Homo sapiens: one gene and its partners. The protein of the gene in region 3 interacts with the protein of the main gene of each other region in a biochemical or structural test. Each region holds a gene or a part of one and is shown on either strand. Other genes may lie near its edges.

Region 1 (7,331 bases), on a different chromosome or scaffold from region 3:
AAGAAGGTGCAATAATAGATGCATGTGTGGTAGGAGGAAGGCACTCAGCAGTCCTGCAGCAAATAGAGCATTGTACTCCATTCTTGTCACTACTGGACACTTCCGTGCCTCTTTCTGCATGATTGTTGCAATGTCCAACCAAAAGCTTAAAAGAGACTGTAAGAGGAAATAGAAAGGGCAATGAAGAAAGAATTTAAGACAACAATGTGTTTGCTTCTCATTCTAATTGAAGGAAGTCTCTCTTGCTTTGAGTCCTTTATTCTGATAAGCAACCAAGCAATCATTCGATTTGAACACACCAATTCCACTGAAAGTCCTTTGGCTACAAATGTGACCTGAGGCCAGAACTAGAGCATGAAGGGAGAACATCTATCCCCATATTTAACAAACAAGTAAATACCCAATTTGTCTTTAGCTTTTAGTATCAGTATAAAAAGAATTTATAACTAGGCTTACATCCAAAGAAACAGATTCATTTACATGAAACCACAATAAAACCTTAAAAATATATTTATGCCTTTAAACATGGGAGGTTTTTCTAGATTACTTAGGTTGGGCAAATTTGTTTTGCTTATGATGTTCCTGTAGGATATCCTAACAAGGAAAATCTTATTAATTTTCCTATAAATTTAAAATATCTACATTTTATAGCATTGACAATAAATTATCAGTTCATTCTAACCTTAGAATATATAGACCATGTACTATGAAACCATTAAATACTAATAGCTGCAGACATACCAGACAATGACAGCAAAAACACACTCAGCCCCTCTGGGATCTGTTCATAAACATCCCCTTCCAGCATGGCAAACACACTCCTCTCAACAGCAGATGCTGTTCTGGGGCTAGCAGGCAGGAAGCTGGAGGCAGCTGATTTTCCCACTCTACATATAATTTCTTACTGCCTCACTATCCAGAATCGTTTTACTGAAACTGTGAGGATTTTTTAAGAACAGGAGCCCCTCAAATTAAAGACACTTTGCAACAGCAGAGGAATGACAGGCAAATGAGGAAGCATGAAGACTCTCTAATATTTAAGGTCACACCACCTTTGTCATCTGATTTTCTAGTCCCATTGTAGGGGAGAGAAAACCCAGTTTGCTCCACATAAGAAAATAAGCTAATCCAATACTTTATGTCAATTTTAAGAGTGTGATCAAGGTAGAGAAGGAAATACATACCAGAGGCAGCCAAACCGCTACATCCAAAGCATCCAGCCCCTAAAATCTAATGGTTCTGAAGTGGAGTCAGAAGCTTGTGATATACTTATATATTTATTTGTTATATATTTGTAACATATATGCTCACCTAAAGTAGAAAATTCACAGAAGCTTCTCTGAGAGAAATGGTCCTTACTGCAACTATTTTAAATATGTTGATAAGCATTCTGTGTTATCTTCCAGGGTCCGACAACTAGCCGATGAGGGATAGAAGGAGATATTGGATGTTGTGCTGGCAATGCCTGGTGCACTTACACTCGTTTTCCTTCCACCTGAACTGTAGTCTATCCCATATGACTTAGCCTGCTTCCTTGCAGTTTGTTCATAAAAGTTATCATCAACATGGCCAGAAGCAGGCAGGGCTGCTGTACAGACACTGTCAGGCTCTGCACCAAAGGCAGCCCATGTAAACAACCTTGTGATTGCTTCAGAGCCTACTGCTGTGGCATAAGCCATTCTTTTTCTGTGGCTAAATTGCAGTACCCTGGGAAGTTATCTGTTTAAGGGGGTAAAAGCAGAGACTAGGTCTCTAGATTTAAATGTTTGGGGAGGGTGAGAAAAATATATGGATAGATAGTTTTCTTGTAATATCTATAGCCTGATTTACTTACAGATTTTCCAGTAAATTACATTTATTTTGTTGAAGGCACAAATACATAGATTCTAACAAATATACTGCCATACTTATTTCTGATTTTTTTTTCAAAAGAGCTCTGACATTTGCAGGGGACACAGTATCCCAGCACAGAATACCTGGGAATCTTGCCATGAAAAAAAGAAAGCTGACTGCTGTGACTAGGAGATCACTTTCTTAAAGGGACCCCTTACCTATTTGACTGCAGTGCCAATGTTTCCTCTTATCTCTAACCTGACCCCTGTTCTGTGTTCCTCTCCCCGGCTCAGATTTAGCCTAGAGTTGCTCTGCAAGAGTAACGCCAATAGTTTTATATCTAATATATATATAAATACTGTTCCTTAGTAAAATACATCTTAAAATATTTAAATTATACTTCTCACAAAAGTAAACATAAATACATACTAAAAGACATTATTTTTAATGTTTTATGGAACCCATCACATTTTTCAGATATGGAACTAAGGTCAGCACTTCTAACAAGCACAGCTGTTTGGTGTTTTTTTTTTCCTCTCTCTCTCTCTCTCTCTCTCTCTGTGTGTGTGTGTGTGTGTGTGTGTGTGTGTGTGTGTGTGTGTTTCTCTCTCTCTCCCTTCCCTTCTGTAGCCCTGCATTGGTCTAAAAACCCCTGGTCACAATAAGAATGCTCCCTCCCTCCCTCTGCTACCCCTCACTCCAAATGGAAAGGTTTCAACACGCCCAAGTCTGGAAAGAGATGTTCTGCACAGAGGGAAAAACTGGTAGCTTCTTGCTTCAAAGCTAGTTCACTTGATTAACCTGCTTTCCACCCCACCTCTCTCGTCTCTTCCATACTCCCTCTCCCGCCCCACCAGGAGCAATCAATAGACATCACCCCACCCTCCAAAAACAGGTTAGAACCCAGAACGAGCAAAGAGCCACCTACCATTCCGTGCCTGAGAACTACGATCCTGATCCGGCAGTGTTTGCCCCAGAAATCCTCCCTACTTGTTTTTCATTAACCACATTCCAGACTAACATGGAAGAGATTCTTTGGAGATATGGAGATTGTTTAAAATTAACGATGGACAGGTGATTTCCAAGAAAACCCAATCTTAAACTCACTCAAGCCCCTAGGAATTGAGGGGTGAGGACAAAAAAGGAAATTTGTAAAAATGAAAAAAGAAAAGAAAAAGGTAAGCATATAGCAAGCACCACCCACCCCCATAAAAATAAAAAGTGAAGGGGAGGTTAAAGAAAATAGAAGAAGAGTGGCTTGCTGAATCACCCTCTTTCACTGCCTGGAAACCATTGTGCAGCGTGATGCTGCCTGTACCATTGTGGAACCTACCAGAGGAGACGGACAGAGGGCTTGGGGAATGGGGTTGCTATGGCAACCGAAAGGAGCACACATGACGTCAAAGCCCAGAGAGGTCTAGGGAGGGGGATGAGGGGGAAACAGAAAGAGGAAGCGTCTATGTGCAGCTACAGCTACTGTGTTTTCCGGTGAAATGAGGACCAGGCAAATGTAAAGGAATAAGGTTCGTCGGCAGCCAACATCAGCAACTACGACATCAAGGCAGCCAGCCTGCACAACCTGAAGAAAAGATCCATTCGATGCAGTTCTGGCCCTTTGCACAGCAGCACGGAGGAGCAAATACCAGCAGAGCAAAACACCACTGGAAATGCAACCTCTGCTTTTCAACTATCTCTTGTAGTATCTCTAAACGTCAAACAAGTAAGAGATGGTAATAACCTCAGAGGAGAAGCAGGCATTTGAGTGTCGCCTGAACCCCGAGGTCATCTGCACAGCACTATTCCTCTTCTCTGTTTCCTTGTTTTTGTAAAAATCCTGAATAAATATCCACTAAACCAAATTCAACAGACTAATACTTAGGTTGCAATCTGAGTGTACAAAGAAAATACTGATTAATTTGAGTTAACACATCAGAATTCTTTTTTTTTTAATTGCAGATAATTTTCTAGAGAACTGATGAAAATTGTACTGTTACTATTTGGGGCAAATATCGCAATTTTATTTCAGTAATTTGCTCTGCCTTTAACTGTTATAGGGTATTTTTAAAGTCTCCAAACAGTTTTACTATCCATAAATAATAGTTTCTTAGAATGACAACAGTTGACTACTTGCACTATAAAAAAAAATTAGGTTTACCAAATTTGTTTTACCTTTTTTATGTAAGAAAAATTTTCAATACAAATTTCGCTTAAACCAACTCCAGCCTTTGGACTTCTCAAATTACGTAATCTAATTCAATTCCTTTTTTGCTTACACTCTTTTGAGGTGGGTTTCTGTTTATTGCTACCAAGTAGTGCTGAGTTGTAAATGATTCCACATTATGTTTTAGAACTAGCATACTTATATGAATATGAAGCTTCTTCCATATGTTACCAGAAAGATACAACATGCAAGAGATGCAAACTCAGCAGTACTGTAGACACTGAAACACATCATAAAGCTGTAAGAAACGCATACGTTTTTGTTGTCTTTGTTGTTGCTGCTGTTGTTTTATTTGGGGAGAAAATTTAGAAAAAGGAAGGCTTGAGTGAGTTGTATGTCATTGTAGTTCATTGGATAAGTGTTTGGATGTCCCTTTACTCTAATTTCAATTTCAACAAGAATCAATCAAGACTATCTTCTAGTCTTCTCAATGGGCCTACCTGCAAGATAACTACCTCATGCAAAAATATGGATTGATAGCCAAACAACTTTATAACACAAAATAATTGGCATTCTGGCTTTTGAGGTATTATATACTAAGTTTGGACATCAAAAGTCAGTTCCCCAATCCCATGGAAATTAAATCAGTTTGTCGAAGAGATGTCTGCATTCCCATATTTATTGCAGCACTATTCTAATAGCCATGGAAACAACTTAAGTGTCCATCAACAGATGAATGTATATATATTATGCATACCACACACAAACACACATACACACACACACACACATGCTGGAATACTATTCAGACTTATAAGAACAGGAAATTCTGTCATTTGCAACAACATAGATGAACCTAGAGGACATTATGCTAAGTGAAATAAGCCAGGCACAGTGAGACAAATACCATATAATCTCACTTATATGTGAAATTTTAAAAAGGACAAACTTGTAAAACTAGAAAGTAGAATGGTGGTTACCAGTGGCTGGAGGACGGAAAGGTGGACAGGGAAAGGGGGGACATTGGTTAATAGGTACAAAGTTTCAGTTAGAAAGGAGAAATAAGCTCTGGTGTACTATTGCACAGCACAGTGACTATAGTTAATAATAATGTTGCCTATTTCAAAATAGCTAAAAGAGAGGATTTCAAAAGTTCTTACTACAAAGAAATGATAAATATTTGAGGTGACAGATAATGAGCCTGATTTGATCATTCTACAATGTATACATGTATCAAAACATCACATTATACCCCATAAATATATACAATTATTGTCAATTACAAATAAAATAAAACAATTTTTTAAAAGTGAATGTCCAGTAACGTAACATGAATGAGGAAAAAAGGAACGCCATCTCTTACCTTACATTGTGAACACAAATATTTATTCAAGATGAATTGTACACCTCAACATAAAAGCTAAAATATATAACACTATTAAAATATAATATAACTTTTTTTAAAGATGGCTTTCTGACCTTGCAGTAGGCAAAGATTTCTTAGGATACAGAAAGCACTTACCATAAAAAAAAAAAAGAGACTTCATCAAAATTAAAAGCTTCCACTTATCCTAAGTCACCATTAAGAAAATGAATAGGCAAGCCAGAGTCTAGATGATACATATATCTGAATACTCTTGATAGCTGAAAATATTCTGATACACACAAATCCTAGATTATAGAAAACATGTCCTACAATTCAATAATAAACATGAACAAACAATTTTGTTTAATGGGCAAAAGACTCTGACAGGCATTTGACAAAGGAAAATTTATAAATGGCCAATAAGCATATGAAAAAGTATTATATATCATTAGTCAGCAGAAATATACAAATTAAAACCAAAGTGAGATACCATTTCATGCCCACAAAAGTGACTAAAATTAAAAAGACTAACATCATCACATATTGACAAGGACATGGAAAACCAGAACTCTCCTACATATATTGGTAGGAGTACAAAATGTTAAAACTACCTTGGGAAATTTTGGTAGTTTTTATAATTATAAACCTACACCCAAAGTATGGCTCAACACTCCTATTTATAAGGATTCACCCAAGACAATGGAAACCTACGTCTACCAAAAAAAAGTTGGACATAAATGTTTATGCTAGCTTTGCTTATAATAAGCAAAAGCAGGAACAACTCCAAATATATCAACTAGACAGCAGATAATTATGATATACAGTCAGCCCTCCATGTTCATGGGTTCCACATCTGTAGATTCAAAAACTGAAGATCAAAAATATTAGGGGAAAAAGAATAAAAGATAACACACAGAGATAAATAAATACAAATAGAAGTACACTATAACAACTGCTTACATAGCATTTACTTTGTACTAGTTATTATAAATAATTTATAGATGATTTAAAATAATAGGAGGATGGAACACTATGCCATTTTATATAAGGGACTTGAGCATCCACTGCTTTTGGTATGGAGAGGTTGTTCCTGGAACCAATCCCCCTGAGAGTACTGAGGGACAACTGCATTTGCCTAATAGAATATTACTCAGCAATTAAAAAGAATGGCAACCAGAAACAGGTTAATACCAATCATTTTCATCCGTTAGGTGTTAGTTTCCTTTTTAAGCTTTTTGAAAATTTATTTTTATTAATGTTATTTTTATTGGCAGTTATAATTGTACATATTTATGGAGAATATTGTGATATTTTGATATATGTATACAATGTGGAGTAATTAAATCAAATTAACATAACTGAGACCTCACATCATTTTTGTAGTGAGACATTTGAAATTTACTCTCTTAGTTGTTCTAAGATATACAGTACATTATTGTTGACTATAGTCACTCTGCTGTACAACAGATCTGAAAATTTATTCCTCTTGTTTTACTAAAATTTTAGTTAACTAAAATTTTGGTTAAATAAAACTCTTTTTTTTTGAGACAGGGTCTCACTCTGTTGCCCAGGTGGGAGTGCAGTGGTGCAATCACAGCTCACTGCACCTTTGACCTCCTGGCCTCAAGGGGTCCTCCCAGCTCAGCCTCCTGAGTAGCTGAGACTACAGGTGCCTGCCACTCCACCTGGCTAATTTTTTATTTTTAGCAGAGATGAGGTCTAAGTCTGTTGCATAGGCTGATCTCGAATTCCTGAACTCATGTGATCCTCTTGCCTTGGCCTCCCAAAGTTCTGGGATTACAGACAGGTATGAGCCACCACACCAGGCTTGAAACTCTTTATTGTTGTTGTTGTTGTTGTTGTTGTTGATTTGTTTTGTTTTGTTTTTGAGACAGGGTCTCACTCTACCACCCAGGCTGGAGTGCAGTGGTGCAATCTCAGCTCACTGTAGCCTCAACCTCCCAGGCTCAA
Region 2 (7,161 bases), on a different chromosome or scaffold from region 3:
CCTTCTGCCCTCCCAGTTGGTCCGTGTCCCCTTCCAGGCTTGAGACCAGATCCTGGGGGCAGTTCACTGCCTGCTTGGAGCCCCCCAGTGCCGGCTTGGTTGGGGCAGGGGAGGCGGTGCTGTCAGGGTGGCTCCAGGGCCTGGTTGCCAGTGGGGGGCTGGCATAGACCCTTCCCACCAGACCTGGTCCCCAACACCTGCCCCTGCCCTGCAGAAACCTGAGTGGGAACCCGTTTGAGTGTGACTGTGGCCTGGCGTGGCTGCCGCGATGGGCGGAGGAGCAGCAGGTGCGGGTGGTGCAGCCCGAGGCAGCCACGTGTGCTGGGCCTGGCTCCCTGGCTGGCCAGCCTCTGCTTGGCATCCCCTTGCTGGACAGTGGCTGTGGTGAGTGCCGGTGGGTGGGGCCAGCTCTGTCCTTCCCAGCCAGGTGGGACCTGGGCCCTGCAGACACTGGGCAGGGCTCAGGAAGGCCTCTCTGGGGGGGGCCTCCGGGCCAAGGGAACAGCATGGGAGCCTGTGAGTGCGGCGGGCGGATGTGGGGGCGTGGGGTGGAGCCAGGAGGAGCAGAACCCGGGGTCCAGTGGCTGCCTCTTCTAGGTGAGGAGTATGTCGCCTGCCTCCCTGACAACAGCTCAGGCACCGTGGCAGCAGTGTCCTTTTCAGCTGCCCACGAAGGCCTGCTTCAGCCAGAGGCCTGCAGCGCCTTCTGCTTCTCCACCGGCCAGGGCCTCGCAGCCCTCTCGGAGCAGGGCTGGTGCCTGTGTGGGGCGGCCCAGCCCTCCAGTGCCTCCTTTGCCTGCCTGTCCCTCTGCTCCGGCCCCCCGCCACCTCCTGCCCCCACCTGTAGGGGCCCCACCCTCCTCCAGCACGTCTTCCCTGCCTCCCCAGGGGCCACCCTGGTGGGGCCCCACGGACCTCTGGCCTCTGGCCAGCTAGCAGCCTTCCACATCGCTGCCCCGCTCCCTGTCACTGCCACACGCTGGGACTTCGGAGACGGCTCCGCCGAGGTGGATGCCGCTGGGCCGGCTGCCTCGCATCGCTATGTGCTGCCTGGGCGCTATCACGTGACGGCCGTGCTGGCCCTGGGGGCCGGCTCAGCCCTGCTGGGGACAGACGTGCAGGTGGAAGCGGCACCTGCCGCCCTGGAGCTCGTGTGCCCGTCCTCGGTGCAGAGTGACGAGAGCCTCGACCTCAGCATCCAGAACCGCGGTGGTTCAGGCCTGGAGGCCGCCTACAGCATCGTGGCCCTGGGCGAGGAGCCGGCCCGAGGTGAGTGTCTGCTGCCCACTCCCCTTCCTCCCCAGGGCCATCCAGATGGGGCAGAGCCTGGTACCCCCGTCTTGGGCCCACACTGACCGTTGACACCCTCGTTCCCACCGGTCTCCAGCGGTGCACCCGCTCTGCCCCTCGGACACGGAGATCTTCCCTGGCAACGGGCACTGCTACCGCCTGGTGGTGGAGAAGGCGGCCTGGCTGCAGGCGCAGGAGCAGTGTCAGGCCTGGGCCGGGGCCGCCCTGGCAATGGTGGACAGTCCCGCCGTGCAGCGCTTCCTGGTCTCCCGGGTCACCAGGTGCCTGCCCCCACCCCCCGAGGGGCCATAGGTTGGGAGATCTCTGAAGCACTGGGGCAGAGCCTGCGGCTGGGGAGTCTCAGGAGGAAGGAGGTGGGAGCTGGGCCGGCCCTGGTGAGCAGGTGGCGCCGGCCGGTGGGGCCGTTCCTGTCAGCTCTGCAGATGCAGAGGTGGACATGAGCTGGGGGCAGCCTCCGGACACTCCTGGGCACGCCATACGGGAGGTGGCCTGCACGGGGATCCCTGCCGGTACCCACAGGCCCCGTGGGTGGGTGCTGCTGTGAGCCTGGGCTGGTGGGCCCTGGTCTCCGGGCTCTGAGCCTCAGTTTCCCCATCTGGAAAGGGGGACAGTGATGGGGCTCCCAGCGGGCTGCTGTGAGGGTGGGAGGATGGAGGAGTGCCCTGAGCCCCCTGCCATCCCACACCCGCCCCCAGGAGCCTAGACGTGTGGATCGGCTTCTCGACTGTGCAGGGGGTGGAGGTGGGCCCAGCGCCGCAGGGCGAGGCCTTCAGCCTGGAGAGCTGCCAGAACTGGCTGCCCGGGGAGCCACACCCAGCCACAGCCGAGCACTGCGTCCGGCTCGGGCCCACCGGGTGGTGTAACACCGACCTGTGCTCAGCGCCGCACAGCTACGTCTGCGAGCTGCAGCCCGGAGGTGTGCGGGGGGCCAGGCAGGGGCCTGAGACGCTGGCTGTGGTTAGGGGCCTGCCGAGCGCCCGCGGTGGAGCCTGGGCTGAGGAGGAGGGGCTGGTGGGGGGGTTTTCGGGCGGCTCGGTCCCCAGTCTGTTCGTCCTGGTGTCCTGGGCCCTGGCCCGGCGCCTCACTGTGCACTCGCCACCCCAGGCCCAGTGCAGGATGCCGAGAACCTCCTCGTGGGAGCGCCCAGTGGGGACCTGCAGGGACCCCTGACGCCTCTGGCACAGCAGGACGGCCTCTCAGCCCCGCACGAGCCCGTGGAGGTAGTCGGCCCCCCACGTTCTACAACCTGCCCTCCTGCCTGCCCCTGGAGGCCTTGCCTGCCCTGCCCACTGTGGGTCTCGCCAAAAAACTTGGGGGCCTTAATGTTGCTTGTGCCCAGTGAAGATGGTTGGGAAAATCCAGAGTGCAGAGAGGAAAGCGTTTACTCACATTACCTCCAGGCCTTTTCTCTGAGCGTGTGTGAGTTATTCCTGAAAGGCAGGTCAGGGGTCCTGCCCCCCATGGACAGTTTCCACCGGAGTCTTCCTCTCGAGCGACAGGAGCCAGGCCTGTGGGGGTCTGATGGCTCGCTCTCCTTCCCTCCCCTCTTCCTGGGAAGTTCGGGTAGGGGGAGTCTGGGCTTCAGGCTGGGATGGGGTCTGTGGAGCTGAGGCGGCCCCCTGCCCACCAGGTCATGGTATTCCCGGGCCTGCGTCTGAGCCGTGAAGCCTTCCTCACCACGGCCGAATTTGGGACCCAGGAGCTCCGGCGGCCCGCCCAGCTGCGGCTGCAGGTGTACCGGCTCCTCAGCACAGCAGGTGGGACTCTGGGTGGTGGGTGGTGGGTGGTGGGCGCCGCAGGACTCGGGGTGGCCTCTCTGAGCTTTCACGTCTGCTGGTCCTGTGGCCACCAGAGTGGTTCCCAGTCTTAGGTGGACAGAGCAGGGGTTCCAGAGACACCAGCTCATTCCAGGTGTCCTGGGGGTGGATTGGGTGGGGCCTGCCTGGGGGCCGGCCTGGGTCAGTCGGCTGGCCGGAGACGGACGCAGCACTGGGCTGGGAGTGCTGCCCAGGTGGGGAGACCTGTCCTCACAGCAAGGCCAGGATTGCTGGTGCAGGCAGTTGGGCATCTCTGACGGTGGCCTGTGGGCAAATCAGGGCCCCAACACCCTCCCCTCCTCACAGGGACCCCGGAGAACGGCAGCGAGCCTGAGAGCAGGTCCCCGGACAACAGGACCCAGCTGGCCCCCGCGTGCATGCCAGGGGGACGCTGGTGCCCTGGAGCCAACATCTGCTTGCCGCTGGACGCCTCCTGCCACCCCCAGGCCTGCGCCAATGGCTGCACGTCAGGGCCAGGGCTACCCGGGGCCCCCTATGCGCTATGGAGAGAGTTCCTCTTCTCCGTTCCCGCGGGGCCCCCCGCGCAGTACTCGGTGTGTGGCCCTGACCTGGGTCTGTTCCCTGCATCTCCTCAGGCCACCTTCCTGTCTGCTGCCCAGGGTCTGGGTCTGTGCACCAGACACACCCAGCCTGCAGGCCCCTCCCACGTCCTTGCCACCTCTGACCTCCGACCTCTGCAGTGCCCTCGGCCCTCTCCCAGTGGGAGAAGCTCTCGCCTGGGCCCTTGGCACGAGCTGTGCCTCCTCTTCCTCTCTCCCAGCACAGCTGCTCCTTCCTGTCTGCCAGGTCTTGGCCTGTGTCCTCTCCCCGTGTGTCCCCCGGTCTGCAACTGTCCTGCCTGTCCTTGTCACGAGCACTGTGGGGAGGCTCCTTGAGGTGTGGCTGACGAAGCGGGGAGCCCTGCGTGTCCACCCTCATCCGTCGTGCGGGGGTCCACGGGCCATGACCGTGAGGACGTGATGCAGCCCTGCCTCCCTCTCCACAGGTCACCCTCCACGGCCAGGATGTCCTCATGCTCCCTGGTGACCTCGTTGGCTTGCAGCACGACGCTGGCCCTGGCGCCCTCCTGCACTGCTCGCCGGCTCCCGGCCACCCTGGTCCCCGGGCCCCGTACCTCTCCGCCAACGCCTCGTCATGGCTGCCCCACTTGCCAGCCCAGCTGGAGGGCACTTGGGCCTGCCCTGCCTGTGCCCTGCGGCTGCTTGCAGCCACGGAACAGCTCACCGTGCTGCTGGGCTTGAGGCCCAACCCTGGACTGCGGCTGCCTGGGCGCTATGAGGTCCGGGCAGAGGTGGGCAATGGCGTGTCCAGGCACAACCTCTCCTGCAGCTTTGACGTGGTCTCCCCAGTGGCTGGGCTGCGGGTCATCTACCCTGCCCCCCGCGACGGCCGCCTCTACGTGCCCACCAACGGCTCAGCCTTGGTGCTCCAGGTGGACTCTGGTGCCAACGCCACGGCCACGGCTCGCTGGCCTGGGGGCAGTGTCAGCGCCCGCTTTGAGAATGTCTGCCCTGCCCTGGTGGCCACCTTCGTGCCCGGCTGCCCCTGGGAGACCAACGATACCCTGTTCTCAGTGGTAGCACTGCCGTGGCTCAGTGAGGGGGAGCACGTGGTGGACGTGGTGGTGGAAAACAGCGCCAGCCGGGCCAACCTCAGCCTGCGGGTGACGGCGGAGGAGCCCATCTGTGGCCTCCGCGCCACGCCCAGCCCCGAGGCCCGTGTACTGCAGGGAGTCCTAGTGGTGAGTATGGCCGAGGCTCCACCACCAGCCCCCAGGCAGGTGCCTGCAGACAGGGTGCTCACACAGGGCGTGAGGCCTGGCTTCCCAGTGAGGGCAGCAGCCCAGTTACTGGGGACGTCGGCCCCGGGCAGGTCCTGCTGGCTGGCTCCTCGGGCTACCTGGTGGGCTTTAAATTCCTGGAAAGTCACGGCTCTGACAGTGGCTCCGCTAACTCATTCCACTGTCTCATTTCACAAAATGAATTTAAAACTCTGCTCCCTGACCTCACACGAGCCCCCGTGAGTCTCTCACGCCCTCTGCTGTGTTCTCGCCTGGCTAAAGCGAGTGGCTTTTGAGGTGGAGTCTGAACCCCTGATGGGAAACTGCGGGCTGCCCGCGGTGCCACCATGCTGGGTACATGGGGGACAGGGCTGTCTCCATCTTGCGGGTACCTGCCTCTTCACCAGGGGCCTTGGGAGGGGCCATCAGAAATGGCGTGACCTGTGCAGCCTGTCCTGGGTTCTGTAAGCCAGTGTAGGTGCCTCCCCTCACTGCTCCGAGCTCTCTGGGTGAGGAGCTGGGGCAAGAGCGCCGGGAGGGTCTGAGAAGACTCAGAGAGAGGTGGACTCTTTGTAGCTGGTACTAGGTTTGCTTTACAGATGGGGAAACTGAGGCACAGAGAGGTTGAGGCATTAGTAGTACTACATGGCTGGCTGGAGAGCCGGACAGTGAGTGTCCCAGCCCGGGCTTGGCTCCCATGGCATGCAGAGCCCCGGGCACCTCCTCTCCTCTGTGCCCCGCGTGGGACTCTCCAGCCCGACGGGAGGTGTGTCCAGGAGGCGACAGGCTAAGGGCAGAGTCCTCCACAGAGCCCAGGCTGACACCATTCCCCCCGCAGAGGTACAGCCCCGTGGTGGAGGCCGGCTCGGACATGGTCTTCCGGTGGACCATCAACGACAAGCAGTCCCTGACCTTCCAGAACGTGGTCTTCAATGTCATTTATCAGAGCGCGGCGGTCTTCAAGCTCTCAGTAGGTGGGCGGGGGTGGGGAGGGGAGGGGATGGGGCGGGGCAGGGCGGGGGCGGGCTCCACCTTCACCTCTGCCTTCTGCTCTGCTTCATGCTGCCCGAGGACGCTGCCATGGCTGTGGGTGAGTGGAGGGAGGGACGCCAATCAGGGCCAGGCCTCTCACCTGCCACCTGGGCTCACTGACGCCTGTCCCTGCAGCTGACGGCCTCCAACCACGTGAGCAACGTCACCGTGAACTACAACGTAACCGTGGAGCGGATGAACAGGATGCAGGGTCTGCAGGTCTCCACAGTGCCGGCCGTGCTGTCCCCCAATGCCACGCTAGCACTGACGGCGGGCGTGCTGGTGGACTCGGCCGTGGAGGTGGCCTTCCTGTGAGTGACTCGGGGGCCGGTTTGGGGTGGGCACCAGGCTCTTGTCCCAGCCCCAGCCTCAGCCGAGGGACCCCCACATCACGGGGTTGCTTTTCTGAGCCTCGGTTTCCCTGTCTGTTGGGAGGTAACTGGGTGCACAGGAGCCCTGAGGCTGCACGGGAGCCGGGAGAGGCCTCAGCACAGCCGGGTGGGCCCTGAATGGAGGCCCGGGGCGTGACTGCAGAGTGGAGCCTCGGCTGGGTCCCAAGCACCCCCTGCCCCGCCACCGCCCACCCCTGTCCCGGTTCACTCACTGCGTCCCACCGCCCCGGCAGGTGGACCTTTGGGGATGGGGAGCAGGCCCTCCACCAGTTCCAGCCTCCGTACAACGAGTCCTTCCCGGTTCCAGACCCCTCGGTGGCCCAGGTGCTGGTGGAGCACAATGTCATGCACACCTACGCTGCCCCAGGTGAGGGATGAGGGGGTGAGGGGGCCACTGCCTTTCAGGCTCTGAGCACGGGGTCCCCCCAGCTCCCCAGTCAAGCTGCCCCCCTTCCTCCCCAACAGCCCTCACTGTGACCTCACCTGGGCTGATGGCTTAGGCCCCTACTGGGGTGAGGGAGGGGCCAGGCGTGGGGGGAGTGGACAGGGAAGCTGGGCCCCTGAACTGCGCCCCCCGCCCTCCCCGGGCCTGGCTCTTGCTGCTCTGCTGCCCCGAGTGCAGCTGCACTTGGAGGCGGTGCCGTCCTCGCCAGGCAGCCCTCAGTGCTGCTACACCTGTGCTCCGTCCCGCACGTGGCTTGGGAGCCTGGGACCCTTAAGGCTGGGCCGCAGGTGCAGCCGTTCACCCCGGGCTCCTCAGGCGGGGGGCTTCTGCCGAGCGGGTGGGGAGCAGGTGGGGGTGCCGCGG
Region 3 (7,230 bases):
TTAACGCATCCATACATAGATTAATAATTCATTAAAGTAACTACTAAACAAAGTATGAATTTTCTTAAAATTCCTGCTCTTATGGATTTAATGGAATGAATATGAAAAACAGATATTAATAAAGATATTAATATTCTAGTTAAAATAGAAACTGCTAGGCATGAATCAGTGCAATTCTATTAATACTATAACAGAGAAATAAAGAATAATGTTGTCAAGGGGATGGGGCATGGCAGAGATCTATGTCAAATTACCTCACAACAAAAATGCCTAAAGAGATTTTGAAAATTTTCTATATATCATTCAAATAGTGAAGTGACTAGAGATTTGCCCTTTTATTTTTTAGGCAGTGCTTAGAATACTTCTTTAAAATCATCAGTATGTCTAAACAACTGTTACGTATTCTGTTTTAATCAATTACAGTTTTATTTCACCAGAAAAAAAATCCTGTGGTAATATTTAAACTTGAAATGGGCCCAGGAGAAAATTACCAATACCTTATTACTTTTTGTTTGATATTTTGTATTTGAGGGAAGTTCTACTTTAGAAACTCTTTTTTCCTCCAATCAGAAAAGCAAGGTGTACTGGCAAAAGCATCAGTCTTCCCTTGATGCTGGTATAAAGAAACTCTTGATTTTTTGAAAAGGTTCTTCCATGGTATTGGGGAAAAATGATATAAATGAATGTGCAATGACATCATTGCACAAAAATATTAATACCATATATTAGCAATAGAACCTGTTTAATGCATTTCTGATTTGTAAAATGTCTCAGAAAACAAAAGATCAAATGTTGTAAGCCTTGATTTCTTTATGATTAAACTTCTCAAAACAGTTTCAGTGAAAAATAGAATATTCAAACTCATGAGCAGAGATAAATCATTCTCACAGGGTTTCCTCTCCAGCCCAGCACTCTCCTTTCTGACTTTCCCCATTATTTACTGGCAGATATAACAGTATAAATACTATACAAGCCCATTCCAGGGATATTTCTGCTAAGCCCTTGAACACTTACACCGTAACTGTAAGAGGCAAATAATCTTAGAACACACAACTATCCCACAAATATCCCAAATATGATATTAAAGTATAAGGCAACAAGTAGGTAAATTATTTTGTATGATTAATAACAGTTACATTATGTAGTTACACTGAACATGAATATTTTATAAACACATTAAAATAATAGCAAGATATGAAAAACTCTTTCAAATTTAATAAGTCAATCCTTGCATCACCCATGCCCCTAAAACTATATAGCTTTGTTTCTAATTCTTCTAAAGATTATTAGTAATTCAAACACATTACTACAAATTTTATACCAGGAAGCCCATCATATTTAATCTGATACAGGTTTAGAAATAATCCTACTTATATTTTCTTGTTCCCACTTCATTTTTTGTTTCTCTAAATTCCTCAAAAAAGAATCATAAAAAGGAAATAAAAGAAGATATATTTAAATATGTCATTTGTATGTCAACATCTTCATGTGTGCCTGTATTTCCTGCTATAAGTATCTCAAGAGTAAGGACCATCGCTTCAGTATGAATGGGTTTCATAAAGGTTCATCCATGGAAATGGGGAAAAATGATAAAATTTCTGTGGTGATTTCTTACTAATGGGCATTCTAAATGGTTAAATCAAGTATACAGCAATATATTATACAGAAACATGTTAGCTTTGGGCATCTAAGTTATGAATCTGACCCAATGTGAAATAAACATCCTTGTCACGTCACGGAAGCAGGTGAACAGTAGCCACTCACTTCTTAAGCGTTCTATTGTGAATATTTCAGGATAGGACATGGGTTTGATATTTTCTTTAATAAGCTTCCTCTCTGTCCCCTTAGACAACTGAGGGCAGGTAAAATATTTTCAAAATCTGGAGAATACCCAACGTGAATATGCCAACTTGATGAAACATATGGAATACATCCTTGGAGAAAAGCCAACTGGCGACCTGCTTGAGTCATCTAAACACCCAAGCTGAGAGAGGTTAACATATAAAGATCAGCTTTGGACTTTGAAGTTTTCTGGTCTTCATTTTGCCTAATTAAGACAAGATTTAATAATCAAACCACTGTACAAACATGTACCTAAAAGTATAGGTTTGTTTCTAATTCTGGGAAGAATTCTTAACAGATTCAAAGGAATCAGCTCCACATGGGAAAAGGTCTCTGATAAGATTTGCTTTTCTCATTGCTAAAATGCAAATGCCTGCTTTTCATCTGAGTTTTATCCAGTGTGACTGAGGTTAGCATTCGCCTGTCAAAATCTCGAGTTTGATACTGAAAAGGAAAGATTCTGATATTAGCACACCATCTGAATCTGAAACAGTGGCAATTAGTTAATAAAAAACTGTATTCCAAAATATTCTTAAAGGTATTCATAGAAACCATTTGTGGATCACAATTTCAAAGTGAGTAATTTACCTACTTTACCATAGTAAAATATATACATCCATGTGTTTCTAGGAAATAGAACCAAGCATAGCAGAAAAGTCTATCTACTATCTAATACTGGTTTTATAAACAAACCTAATTCTAGATCAAAACACTATATGGCAAAAAAATACGATCCCTAATCTTCCCTCCCACATACATTTCTTGCACTAAACAGTGGACAATTTTTCAAGAATACCTAATAATTTTAAGTTGTGCTGAAAGGCCACAAAACAAATAAACAAACCTAACTCTACCATAATATAGAAAACATATGCAGAGTCACATACAAGTCAGTGAGTATTATGCCATTAGTCAGAGAAGGAAATTGGCTCTCTCCTGAAGATACTGATTTGATATAAAATAATTTGATATGAAACCGAAATATTTGCTAAATTTAGAGAAGTGCTACAGCAATAAAATAGGCATTATCTAATGACACAGAAAGGGTCTGCAATGCATACTAAAAGGTTAGAGAGAGAGTTGTCCCTGCCAGCCACCCCATCTCTAGCACCCCAATCCCACACATACTTTTGCTACTTTGAGAGTAGCGAAGGGCTAGGCTGGAAAACTTTCTGTTCGGAAGCATGGTATCCAATCCATGCTTCCTTCATGGCTCTGCCCTTGTTACGATGGAGGCCAAAAGAAGAGAAAAACTCCAGCAACACTTGCCATAAAACCAGCAAGTGATGAAGATCCCTTTCCCCTACTGCCGTTAGAAAGATGATTAAGCCTCTGCCCATGAGAGTTTATTTTGTTTTGTTTTGTTTGTTTCTTACATCATAGTACAACAAAGTTATTACTAAGCCAGGTTTTAGCTATCCATTTATCAGTAAACAAAGTATCAGTTTGCAATATCATGCCTCTCATGCCTCTGTAACATAACTTGTAGATGATACAGCACAAAGGCAAGGGAATAGAATTTTAATACTCAGGACCTTAATATTTTCCAGGAATTTTCCAGGAATGAGAAGATGGTGCTTTTTTAAGCCTACCACAGCAAAAAGTAGTGGAAAAACTGTCCAGACCAGGTTCTTTAATATCATTTTGCTTACGAATTCATAGAAAATCCTTTACTGGCCTGTCTGATATTATGCTGCAATCACTGTTTCTTTGTAGTTGCCTCAGCAGGAGAGCTCCTAAGGATGTGGTACGGTACAGACATCCGCTGTCTATTTTAGCAACATTAAGACTTCCAGGAAGAAATGATCACAAGTTTCCGAGAAACTACTCCAAACGCTTATTGGAATGAAGTGGGGCATTCGCAAAATAAATGTAACGTAGATGCATACAAGTTGCTGAGAAGTGCCTTACTGGCTAATCTTGGCCTATCTGTCATCACCTGTACAAACTTTTTGACATGTCAACACACCACATTCAAGTCTGCCTCAAACTTTTTCTGCAACACTAAAAAATGAGGCTCCATATACATATGCCCGTATGGGCTTGTGTACCAAAATATATACCTGATCATAAAAAGATCTTGTGAATGTATCATCTCAATTTTGCTACAAATGTCTTATGAACATAATGGTGGTTAAAACACTGATATTGTGATGGTGTCCTTGAGCCAAGAAAGCAGGCTTAGGATGATCACATCCTTTTTGCTGTGACTCCCATCAACATTCCTCTTAGACACCCATATCAGTGAAGAGATACCCAATTTCCAAACTGGCGGTTAGAACATTTTGACTTGGCTTGGAGGCTTACTTTGTTCATGTGGATCTGCTGCTGGTATTGCTTCTGCTTCTCCAAGAATTGCTGGTGTTGCTGTTGAATGACCAGCTGAGCCAACGTGCTCTGAGGCAAAGGTGCAGACTGGGTTCGGTTCAGGGGTCTGTGACGGGGCAATTTGTGGGTACCTCTAATGCCAGGTGAAATTCTCTCTTTTGTTGCCAAGGGAGACTGAGGATGTAAGGGAACTCCACCTGAAAAAAAAAATACATGTATATGTGTGTATACACACACACACACACACACACATACACACACACACAATTTTAAGAAAAGATAAGAAGCCAAAGAAAACAGATACATGGTATAAACTGTAAGAAAATTAGTGAATTAGTGATGCTACCAGGCAAACAACAGAAGAATAGGTCAGGTGTGGGAAGAGAGAAATGTCAAGGCATTGGACAGGTACGCATCTGACCATACGACTCACCACAGCCTAGTCTGGTATGAATAAAGGTTAAATGAGGTGAGTCCTCCTACCCCAAGTGGATCTGAAGGAATAAATAAAGATGATAGCCTTTCCCACAGTACCAGGTATCAGGGAAACTTTTGTATAGCACTGTGGATCTCCATCAGGGTCTTGAGTAAAAGAGACATTATCCTGGATCACTAATAAAATAAAACCCTAAAATGACCTGCAAATGGTGCCATAATGAATTACCAGCTACAAGAAGCTTTTGCTGTCGCATTTGTTCTTTCAATAATAAATGCTGCAGGAGAGCCTGGTGGCTGCTGTTGGGTGGCTTTCCCTCTAAAGTAACATGAGGGTGGCTGGAAGATGCCGGGATGCTGCCTCCATACTGCCCAGGCAGAGGAACACCTTGCCTAAGCGTCTGCGTCTCACACTTCTGCTTTTCTTTGAGTGAATTCGAAGCCTGTGTTGAGAAATAACAAAGATGTTAATCCTCTTTCATCCATGTGGGTCACTGGGTCTCTAAATCATTAGACAAGTTTCCTATGCTGTAGCTTCCCAAAACAAAAGCCCCATCTTACCCAATGGCTGAGCAGGGAAAATGGACTTTTTAAACTAACTCAGTTCAAAAAAGAAGGAATAAAAATAGGGTTGGAGCACTGAAGACAATTTAATATTGTCATTGTATTGAACATAAAAAGGTTTTATAATTAAAATCAGAAGTGATGCTACATACACAATTTTAGGTGGAAAGAATAAATTCAAGAGATCTGTTGTACATGATGATGACTACAGTTAATAACAATATATTGTACATGTGAAAATTTCTCAGAGAATAGATTTTCAGTGTTCTCACCATAAAAAATAAGTATGTGAGACAATGCATATGTTAATTAGCTTAAGTCACTCTACGATGTATACATATGTCAAATCATTATGTTGTAAACCACAAATATATGTACCTTTTATATGTCAATAAAAAAACAAAAAATGCTTATTTCAGGCTTAATAAGTGGAAAGTACATTTCTAAAATATTTTATACACTGTTTAAGTTAAAGGCATACTGGAGAGGTAAAATTTATTCAAAGACTATATCATGGGGATTAAGAAGCTGGAGATAAGATGGACTGTAATTTTGGAGTTGCAAGCAAAAGGAACAATTTACCCTTTCTCTACATGGCTTCTAATAATTTCACAGAGCTGTAAGTGTCCAATGTTTAATTTTTTAAATTAAATTCTTAAAATAACCCAATGAAAGGAGGTAAAAATATGCAGAAATTTGATTTAAACATTTTATATTAATTCATAACAGATACCCAAATCTCTAAATATTGAAAATGACACTCTAGATATTTTGTATAATAAACTACAAAAAATGCTATTAAGAACTTGAAATGTATGATAACACAGTAATAAGGCAATAATAATTATATCATCAATAGCAATAATGAATTATCCTATTCAAAGGATTTAATGAATGGTGGTCATTTTGCTATTACAAAAGCAGGACTCTAATACCTCAAAATTATGTGGCATGTTTCTTTTCAAAACTCATGTTTCATCTTTCAAAATTGCTGTGCACCAGGGAGGCGAAGCAATTTTCAGCAATGGAGAAACTGAAGGACAAAGAGGTAAGTGGTTTGTCTGAGTCACACAGTAAGTCAATGCAATGTTTAATCTAGAAGTGATTCCTTGTCCTGGCCTCTTTTCCTTAAAATTTCCCAGTATTCAATGTAGAAATGGAGTACTACAAATCCCGTTGGCAAAGCAATGCTAAACTTGAAAAATTAATTGTGATGGCCTCATCCACACCAAAATGGAAGCAAAGAAAAATGAAACTTTAATCCAAACCACATTGGTTTATTCATCCAATGGTACCAAATCGTATTACCTCTGAAACATTAACTGGTCTGGCTTTAGTACTTGGTCCTTTGGGAAAAAATTTTCCCTGACCACATTAAAAGTGGTCCATGTGTGAGTTATTGAGAGGAGTGGCTTAGAACATACAAAAATAAGTAAAAATAAAATGCCTATTCATGTGTCATAAGAAGTTTTTGGGTTGGTATTTACTTATCATTAGAAGAGACAGGAAATAGAGAAGGAAAAATATTTTTTAATTAGTGATAACTGTAAAATATTATCCATGAATATTTATTTTTAGTTTCATTCCTAATTCCTTTTTTTGTTTTTCATTTACAAATGTTTCATGTGGAATTTTAAGAGCATAGCTGAATTCTGTATTTTCAATGCTTTCTTTTATAATCCCCAGATATAAGACAACATCCAAATTTTGTTTTTTCCTCATTGGTATAAGAACACAGTACCACATAAAATGACATTATAGTCTATTGACAATACCAGATATAATATCTCTTAGGTTGATTTTAAAATACGCATTGAAACTATGTGTTGAACATACAAGTGAACTTGACACATTCAACTCAGTGGAAGACTTGAAGGTAAAGATTGGCCAAACTGGTGATGAGAGTTGGAATAAATTTCTCTCTAAACCTAATGTATCATATGACCCCTGTATATATACAATTTAATTAACTAACATTTCAGAGATGAATTATTCTGGATAAGGCCCACACATTTTTTACAACTAAAATTGACACTGTTTCAGGGAATATGCCTAGAATAA
Region 4 (7,230 bases), on a different chromosome or scaffold from region 3:
AAAATTTTCATTTTAATCTCTTTCACTTAGGTCCTTTGTAATGTGCTTCAGTTCTTACTTTGGGGGAAAATATTTCAATGCATACCAGTAACTAACAAAATAGTACTTAATTAAAGCACACAAGCACACTAGCCTATTAAATTTAGATAGCATCTTTCCTAGTTAAATTAACGGAATAAACTAAATAATACAGTATTTTCATTTAAATATCAGAATATACTTATCAAAGAGTAAATAATTTCTTCTATGTGTCCAGCTATTTTTGGCAAAATTAAGAGCTAATATAATCGGTTTAACTGAACTCTAAGTCTCAAAGTCATCACAGGTAGTCAAGTTAAAAATAAAGAATGAAATTGAACCACTTGGCTTGTGACACTAATTAACAAATACAGTAAAGCCCCCCTTAGAACACAGTCTGGAGTGGATTTTACGACTTTGTCCTCGTGAGCGCTCGTGTAAGCAGGTGGTCATGCTGCCTGAGGCATTAAGAAAGCATGGCGGGGCCAAGGTCGCGGGGAAGGATACGGTCAGTGCCTTGGAATATCACACAACCTTTCACCAGCTCTCCCATGATGCAACCCACTGACCAGATATCAACTGAAAATAAAATGAAATGATAAAATTATGAAGTGCCATGAACAAAACAAAAGTGAGGAAAAGGAATTCTAACAGTGCACTAAACACACAAATATGGAAAAATAAATTGCTAGCTAAGGGTGACATTTTACACAATATGAATGATTGCTGACCTCTATTTTAGCCTTCGGTTTGTAGCAATCTGGGGTTTTAGTGCCAAAGAGTCCAATACTTTATAGCTTAAAACAAACAAACAAACAAACAAAAAACCAGAAACAAGAAGTGCCTGTGAACACAAAGCTTTTCAGGGCCACACGCCCACCCCAGCCTCCATGGCCAAGTACCGGGTCCCCTGTGAAGGATACAGTCTCTTCCCGGGAACAGGACTTTATGGAGGACCATTTCTGCCATGATGCACCCGACAGACCAGATGTCCACTACCAAACACCAGGGGATTAAAAACCAGCTAGAGTCCCCCATCTTTTTTCTTCAAACCCCCTCCCAGGACAAACCCGGTACACGTCACTAGCTTGCCGGCGGGAGCCTCTGTGCGTTGTTGATACCACACCTCCTGAGCGATCATTTTCTAGACTGCCCCGTCAGAAAGGCAGCAGCACTCACTGGCGGCACAGGCTGGCTGGCTTGCAGGACTGCAGGTGAGGCCCTGCTAGAGGGGCCCAGACTTCCACGGTGCCCACCCTCATCTGTGGGGCCTCAGACAGACAGCAGAGGCCTCTAAGTGCCCTGCTGGCGGGCCGAGGGGAGAAGTGAACAGGGGATCAAGTTTTCTCTCCCCTCCACAGGAAGCACATGAAGCTGTGCCCCTCAGGGTGGGAACACAAGCTACAACGCAGCAAGATGAACCTGTAGCAAAACTCATTTCAGATGACCCGGGCAAACTTTCAGTCTTTTTAAAAATAAGTAAGCGTGATTTCGTTATTTTCAACAAATTTGCTAAAAGCCAAGTTTCAAAGAGCTCTGATATTGCTAGAATAAGCTAAGTTTTGATGTAAAAAGACACCAATTTTACATGAAAACATGTGTTATTCTATTTACATCAAATTCAAAAAAACAATATGCAGACCAACAAATAAAGCTGATCCATGGTACTGGAGATCAGGAGATTGGCCAGCCTCGTGGGCTGCGAGGAGGGGCCATGGGGAGGCCAGAGCTGCTGCTGCTGTGGGTGTGCTCACCTCAGCTGAGCTGCACACTCAGGATTTGCACACTTGGCTATAGACAGCTTAACTCTGATTAAAAAGTTCAAAAATAACAATTTTAAAAGTGAATTTTTAAAAGAGAATGATTTTAACCAATGGAAAAACACAATTAATTATTTCTTATCTCTGGATCATGCTATATTCTGGGTGTAACAGTCCCCACAGTATATATCATATGGTTCAAAGGAAAGAGAAAAAACTCGAGACCACCGCTAGAGCAATTTCTAAACATCCCAGCCTCTTCCAGCCCCGGCTATACTCACCGTTCTCTTTGTAGCCCATACCCAGGATGACTTCGGGCGCCCGGTAGTACCGTGTCACCACGTAAGGGGTCATCATGAAGTTAGTGCACGCTGTCCGGGCCAGGCCAAAGTCAAGGATCTTCAGGGTGCAGTCTGATTTCACAACAATGTTGCTAGGCTTCAAATCCTAGGAAAGAAATGGCTTAAATTAGTAAAATGAATGAAGCATGCTAAATAAACTACTTCACATCCGTGAGGGTCGTGAAGCCAGTGTGAGAGTGTAGGGAGTGAACTGAACTCTGAGATTTGGGAACAACTTTGGAAAATCTTACTCTCAAATTGAAACTAAAACAAATCAGCCTAAAGCCGTCAGATGGTGCCCCTTACCCCCAGTGGAAACCTTCATGGCCCCCATTTGCCCTTTCTGTGGTCTCGCAGGCCCTCAGGCTGTCCTATCTACCCTCCATCCATGCATCTACACGTCCAGCACACATGCCCCCCTCCCGCTCTCCACGCCTGGACTTGAGTTCCCCAATACTCTGACTCTCTCTTGCTAAGGTCCTCATGCTGTCAGTCCAGCACACACGGCCCCCTCCTGCTCTCCACGCCTGGACTTGAGTTCCCCAATACTCTGACTCTCTCTTGCTAAGGTCCTCATGCTGTCTGTCAGTCCAGGGCAGTGCTGTCCCACAGACAATGTCATATAATGCGAACGATGTGTATAATTTACATTTTCTACTAGCCATGCTCAACAGCATGCAGAAATAGGTGAAATTAATTTTAATCATACAGTATATTTTTTTAACCCAATATATCCATAATATTATCATTTCAAAATGTAATCAACATAAGAAAAATACTGAGATATTTTACATTCTCTTTTTAGTACTGAGCCTTTGAAGTCCAGTATGTATTTTACAACTGCAGCACGGCCACATCCTGAGTGCTCCACAGCCTCCTGTGGTTAGTGGCTGCCATACTGGACAGCACAGGTCTAGAATCGTCTGATCCTGGAATCTTCCCATGGCTCTTTCTCTCCTTGGAAGAGCAATTCCATGATCATCCACCTCCAATCTTCTCACCTTCGCCACAAAGACACGCCAGCACTGGTGCTGCTGTCTCCATCTGTACGTGGCACAAAAACTCACCTGCTCATGTTCTGGTTGCCACCTCTCTTCCCTCCCCAGTGCTGACTCTGTGTGAGCTCTCAGCACTCAGAAGCACGCCTGGCGCGAGCAGACACTTGGGAAGTGTCTGCAGAATGAAGACATGCATCATATTCCACCTGACTTGCAAAGCCTTAACACAACTTCTGCAACCTTTTCCCTCATAACTAAGGGATTTTCTTCCTGCTGATCCTCCACCCTAGCCCCTTCCTCAGGCCTTAGGAATTTGACTTTTGCCTGGGGACTTCGGCCTGCAAACTCACTTGAGAAACTGTGACTTGTAAACAACCCACACCCATTCTTTTCACAAGAGTAGTGCACCTGCAATGTCAAACTGCCAAGCCACTGACATGGCGTAAGGCATGAGGATACTTTACCCAGGAAGTTGCAGGTTCAGTAGCACTGCCTAGCACCTGCCTGTAAGACACCCCAACTGATGGGCCACAAGGGGGGTTGCAGGCGGCATGCCTCAGTGAAGGCTGTGGGGCTGTCATCAGGGCAAGCAGGAAGCCATTTCGACATTGACAACAGGTACAATTACACTGCCATGCTGCTAAGTGACCTGTTTCTAGGCTTCCTAGATTCTGTAAGATTTAAATGATAAACATATAATGTTTAAAAATGCAGTCACAATCTCTACCTGGCCCCAAAAAGAGGCCCCCAGCCCCTCCATTCCACCTTAGAGTACTGTGCAGACACCCCCGGTTCCCAGAAAGGCCTGAGAGGAAGAAACCGGGCTGCCTCCCTGCATGAAGGAAAGCCAGGGAGAAGCAGCCCACATTCAACCAGGGACGCTCCGCTGTGAGGACCAAGTCAGGGAGCTAAGACCAAATGAACGAATTCGCTTCTTGTTTCCTTTTTTAAAATCAAAGAGTATGACAAGAACAGGCATTTTAGAACATAAATTACTAACAGATAAAATAATGCTCAATCTCACAAAAATCTTCTTTAAAAACCCAAAATGAATGCCCATTTTTAGTCTATCACTTGGCAGCGATGGAAAGCAAGCAGACTCGGTGCTGGCGGGAGAAGCAGAAACAGGCGCTTCCTCAGGCCACAGAGGGTGTGCAGTGGGCACTTTCTCTCCAGGAGGCTGATTTCTGAGGTGTGAAATGCACACACTTCCCCAGCCAGCAGGCCCTGAAGCCCAGCCCACCCAGAACTAACAGCACGGCCGCAGGAGCAAGGAAGACAAGGACAGCCTGGTTCTACCAAGGACAGACGCAGCAGTGGAACCATCTCCACGGGCTGCCTGCCAGCTCTGTGAACCCCAGTGCGCCAGAAACACGCTCATCTGAAGACACTGCCATCTGTCAAAAAACTGTCATCACATACTAATTTAACAGGAAAAGCACACTTTACTGCCGTCTGCTGGAAGACTGTGGTGATAAAGTCCCAAGCTTGTGTGGGTGCTCTGTGTGGCCAATGGGGAGGTGGCTAAGGAGGTGCTCTCCCCGCACCCTGGGACCCTCTCTAGTCACCCCCGAAATACAACCTGAGGCAGCTTCCCAACACCTCACTTCAATTTCAAGACAGCAGAGGAAAGACAGTTCTGCCCCTTCAAGTCTTGAAAATCACTCAGAACAAAGAAGACAAATGCCAAGTACAGATCCAAGTGACGCCTGGATCGGGGCTTGGCTCCCAAAATGCCTGGAACCCAACGCTACCCTGTGGGCAGCAGTGAGGGTACCCACAGCACCCGCAGCATGAGTGGGGCAGGTGCTGACCTCCCCCACTGCCCGCTCAACTCTGGGATCCAGACCCACTGCTTGAGAGGTATCCCAGGAAGGAGCACATCATGACAGGTGTCCACTGTCTGGCCTTGCCGGTCCTTCCCCACAGGTACCTGTGGCCACCCACCGGGTAAGAACAGCCAGGCACTCTTGAGGATGAATGGACACAGCTCTAAGTAGACACTGAAACCCGAAGACCCCAAACACTCTCAGGGCTCCTCCACTTGCAGGGTTCGTGGGGTCAGGGGTCAGGGGTCAGGGCATAAGTGAAGTCTGGGCCAGGTCTCTTGCGGCCATGTTATGGGAGGGTGGGAACGTTAGCAAAGGCTTAGAGCAAGGCTGTGAGAGAACATTGCTGTCCAGCCTGCAGCAGTGTGGGCGCTGTCTGGGCCTCTCTTCTAATCAGTGTGGAGGATGCATTTGCCCCATCAACATGCCAGACCTGAGGCCTTATTAATCTGCTCCAGCAACAACTGCACCTTGACATGCACAGCAGCTGCGGCCAGGACTGCCAGTGCCGTAAGCCTGTGGCCGTCTGGGGTCATTCTCCAGAATCCATGCAGCTTCTTCAAGGGCTGGACTAACGAGTTAGACTGGGATGCAAGATACCACTGTCTCTGCTCCCCTGAGGCTTCCATGGTGGCCCTAGTCTCCTCCACCCACCCCGGGCCCTGCAGGGTGTGATCTTGTTTTTGATTTACTATCTTGGGGGCAGTTTCAGGTTTCCATTTGGCCTTCCCACTGTGACGACTCTTACTCACAGGCCAAGGAACTCGTGTGGGCGTTACTCCACCTGCCAAGCGCCTCCGCTCCGGCTACACACTGAGGACTGGGGAGACGGCCACTGGGTGGCCTGGGACCCTGTGGCCCACTGAGAGCCACCAGACACAGACGGCTCAGGAATGAAGGCCTGGGACACAGGCCAGGCAAGCCACAGAGGCCTGCCAATGTGAGAGCTGAGGGTATGAATAACAGGAAAGGGTAGGGAAAGAGCCAGCAGAGAGACCACAGTGACAGGGACTACAGGGTGTCCCACTAACCTCTGTCTTCCAGATTTCCCCTGAGGAAGAGAGAACCATGGGCGCCACAGGAAAGCCATTCCCAACTTATGTGGAGAAGTAGAGCTGAGGGGGCCAGGGTGGACTGTGGGGTCCACGGAAATGCACTCCTTGGTCTCCCGCCACAGGAGTGAGAGTGACAGATGGCCCAGTGTGGTGTCTGCACCTACCCTCTGTCCCTGCCAGGGCACACCTCCCACAGAGCCGTCAGCCAGGGGCCGACCGGGCAGGGATGCTGAGGCAGGCCCGTTCCTGTGTGACACCGGAGGCCCTCAGAGCTGCACCGCAGTCTGGACCAGGCCTCTGAGGGGCCAGGACTGCACTACGTTCAGCTAGCATTTGCTGCCTCCTCTGGCTGCTCCCCCTTCCTTCTCGCACAGGCCTCCTCCCGGCCAGTCCCTCGCCTGTCTAACCCACCGTGGCATGCGGAAGCCGCCCACGAAAAGCCCCACGCTACAGGGACAGGAAGCTGCAGGGCCGCCCAAATGCCCTAGCTGAGCGAAGGAAATGCCAACCTCTATAAATGGCCACGACACCCAGGAAAGGCTCAGCAAGTGAAATGCAGGTGCTATGGAGGCAGAAGAGGCAAGGGTAGCACTTGGAGAAGTTTTCATTTTATTGAAAGTCCAAGTACGTAGTAGATGTCCCAGATCCCCATCTCCATCCCAGAAGTGAGGCTCCACTCCTTCCTCACTCCTGCTGGCCCTTCACGCAGAGAAACTGATGCCCAGCTTCCAGGTGCAGGGCCACAGGCGCCGCATGCACAGTCCTGTGGGTACCAACAGGGAAGGCACGGTGAGGCCTGCCTGCAACAGGGCTGCCTGGTGAGTTTGCGCTCTGCCACATGAGAAGCACAGCCCTGTACCCCAGCAGCCAGGCTTACATCCCTCCACCAAGGGACTGAAGGGGCCTTTTCCAGAGAAATTAAATGGTGCCCAGAGAAAAAACCTACAGAAGGTGACACCTGTGGCTGCCTGTGGTCCAAGAGACACCCATTCTTTAACAATTTACCCATTCACTCAGTACTTCCAGTCAGCCTTTAATGCTTCAATCTCTTTTTTTTTTTTTTTTTTTTGAGACGAAGTCTCGATCTTGTTGCTCAGGCTGGAGTGCAATGGCACTATCTCAGCTCACTGCAACCTCCGCTTCCTGGGTTCAAGAAATTCTCCTGCCTCAGTCTCCTGACTAGCTGGGATTATAGGCACCTGCCACCACGCCCAGCTAATTTTTATATT

What was found.
Region 1: the proteins of HDAC9 (region 3) and MAPK10 form a complex in vitro, tested with the Homo sapiens proteins (one study listed by BioGRID).
Region 2: the proteins of HDAC9 (region 3) and PKD1 form a complex in vitro, tested with the Homo sapiens proteins (2 studies listed by BioGRID, with this or other methods).
Region 4: the proteins of HDAC9 (region 3) and MAPK9 form a complex in vitro, tested with the Homo sapiens proteins (one study listed by BioGRID).

What each region holds. Positions count from the first base shown.
Region 1 is NC_000004.12:86,356,897-86,364,227, forward strand, and holds the start of MAPK10 (mitogen-activated protein kinase 10), read right to left. Parts: upstream 3,158-7,331; 5' UTR 2,762-3,157; intron 1-2,761. UniProt on the Homo sapiens protein: Serine/threonine-protein kinase involved in various processes such as neuronal proliferation, differentiation, migration and programmed cell death.
Region 2 is NC_000016.10:2,111,899-2,119,059, reverse strand, and holds part of PKD1 (polycystin-1 isoform 1 precursor), read left to right. Parts: intron 1-214; coding exon 215-384; intron 385-597; coding exon 598-1,269; intron 1,270-1,387; coding exon 1,388-1,571; intron 1,572-2,006; coding exon 2,007-2,227; intron 2,228-2,415; coding exon 2,416-2,531; intron 2,532-2,941; coding exon 2,942-3,068; intron 3,069-3,434; coding exon 3,435-3,682; intron 3,683-3,909; coding exon of another isoform or gene 3,910-4,025; intron 4,026-4,134; coding exon 4,135-4,890; intron 4,891-5,767; coding exon 5,768-5,899; exon of another isoform or gene 5,900-5,903; intron 5,904-5,994; coding exon of another isoform or gene 5,995-6,019; intron 6,020-6,096; coding exon 6,097-6,272; intron 6,273-6,586; coding exon 6,587-6,720; intron 6,721-7,161. UniProt on the Homo sapiens protein: Component of a heteromeric calcium-permeable ion channel formed by PKD1 and PKD2 that is activated by interaction between PKD1 and a Wnt family member, such as WNT3A and WNT9B. Both PKD1 and PKD2 are required for channel activity.
Region 3 is NC_000007.14:18,645,603-18,652,832, reverse strand, and holds part of HDAC9 (histone deacetylase 9), read right to left. Parts: intron 5,049-7,230; coding exon 4,835-5,048; intron 4,368-4,834; coding exon 4,150-4,367; intron 1-4,149. UniProt on the Homo sapiens protein: Responsible for the deacetylation of lysine residues on the N-terminal part of the core histones (H2A, H2B, H3 and H4).
Region 4 is NC_000005.10:180,246,914-180,254,143, forward strand, and holds part of MAPK9 (mitogen-activated protein kinase 9), read right to left. Parts: intron 2,226-7,230; coding exon 2,060-2,225; intron 1,014-2,059; coding exon of another isoform or gene 942-1,013; intron 816-941; coding exon of another isoform or gene 787-815; exon of another isoform or gene 750-786; intron 598-749; coding exon 526-597; coding exon of another isoform or gene 485-525; exon of another isoform or gene 1-484. UniProt on the Homo sapiens protein: Serine/threonine-protein kinase involved in various processes such as cell proliferation, differentiation, migration, transformation and programmed cell death.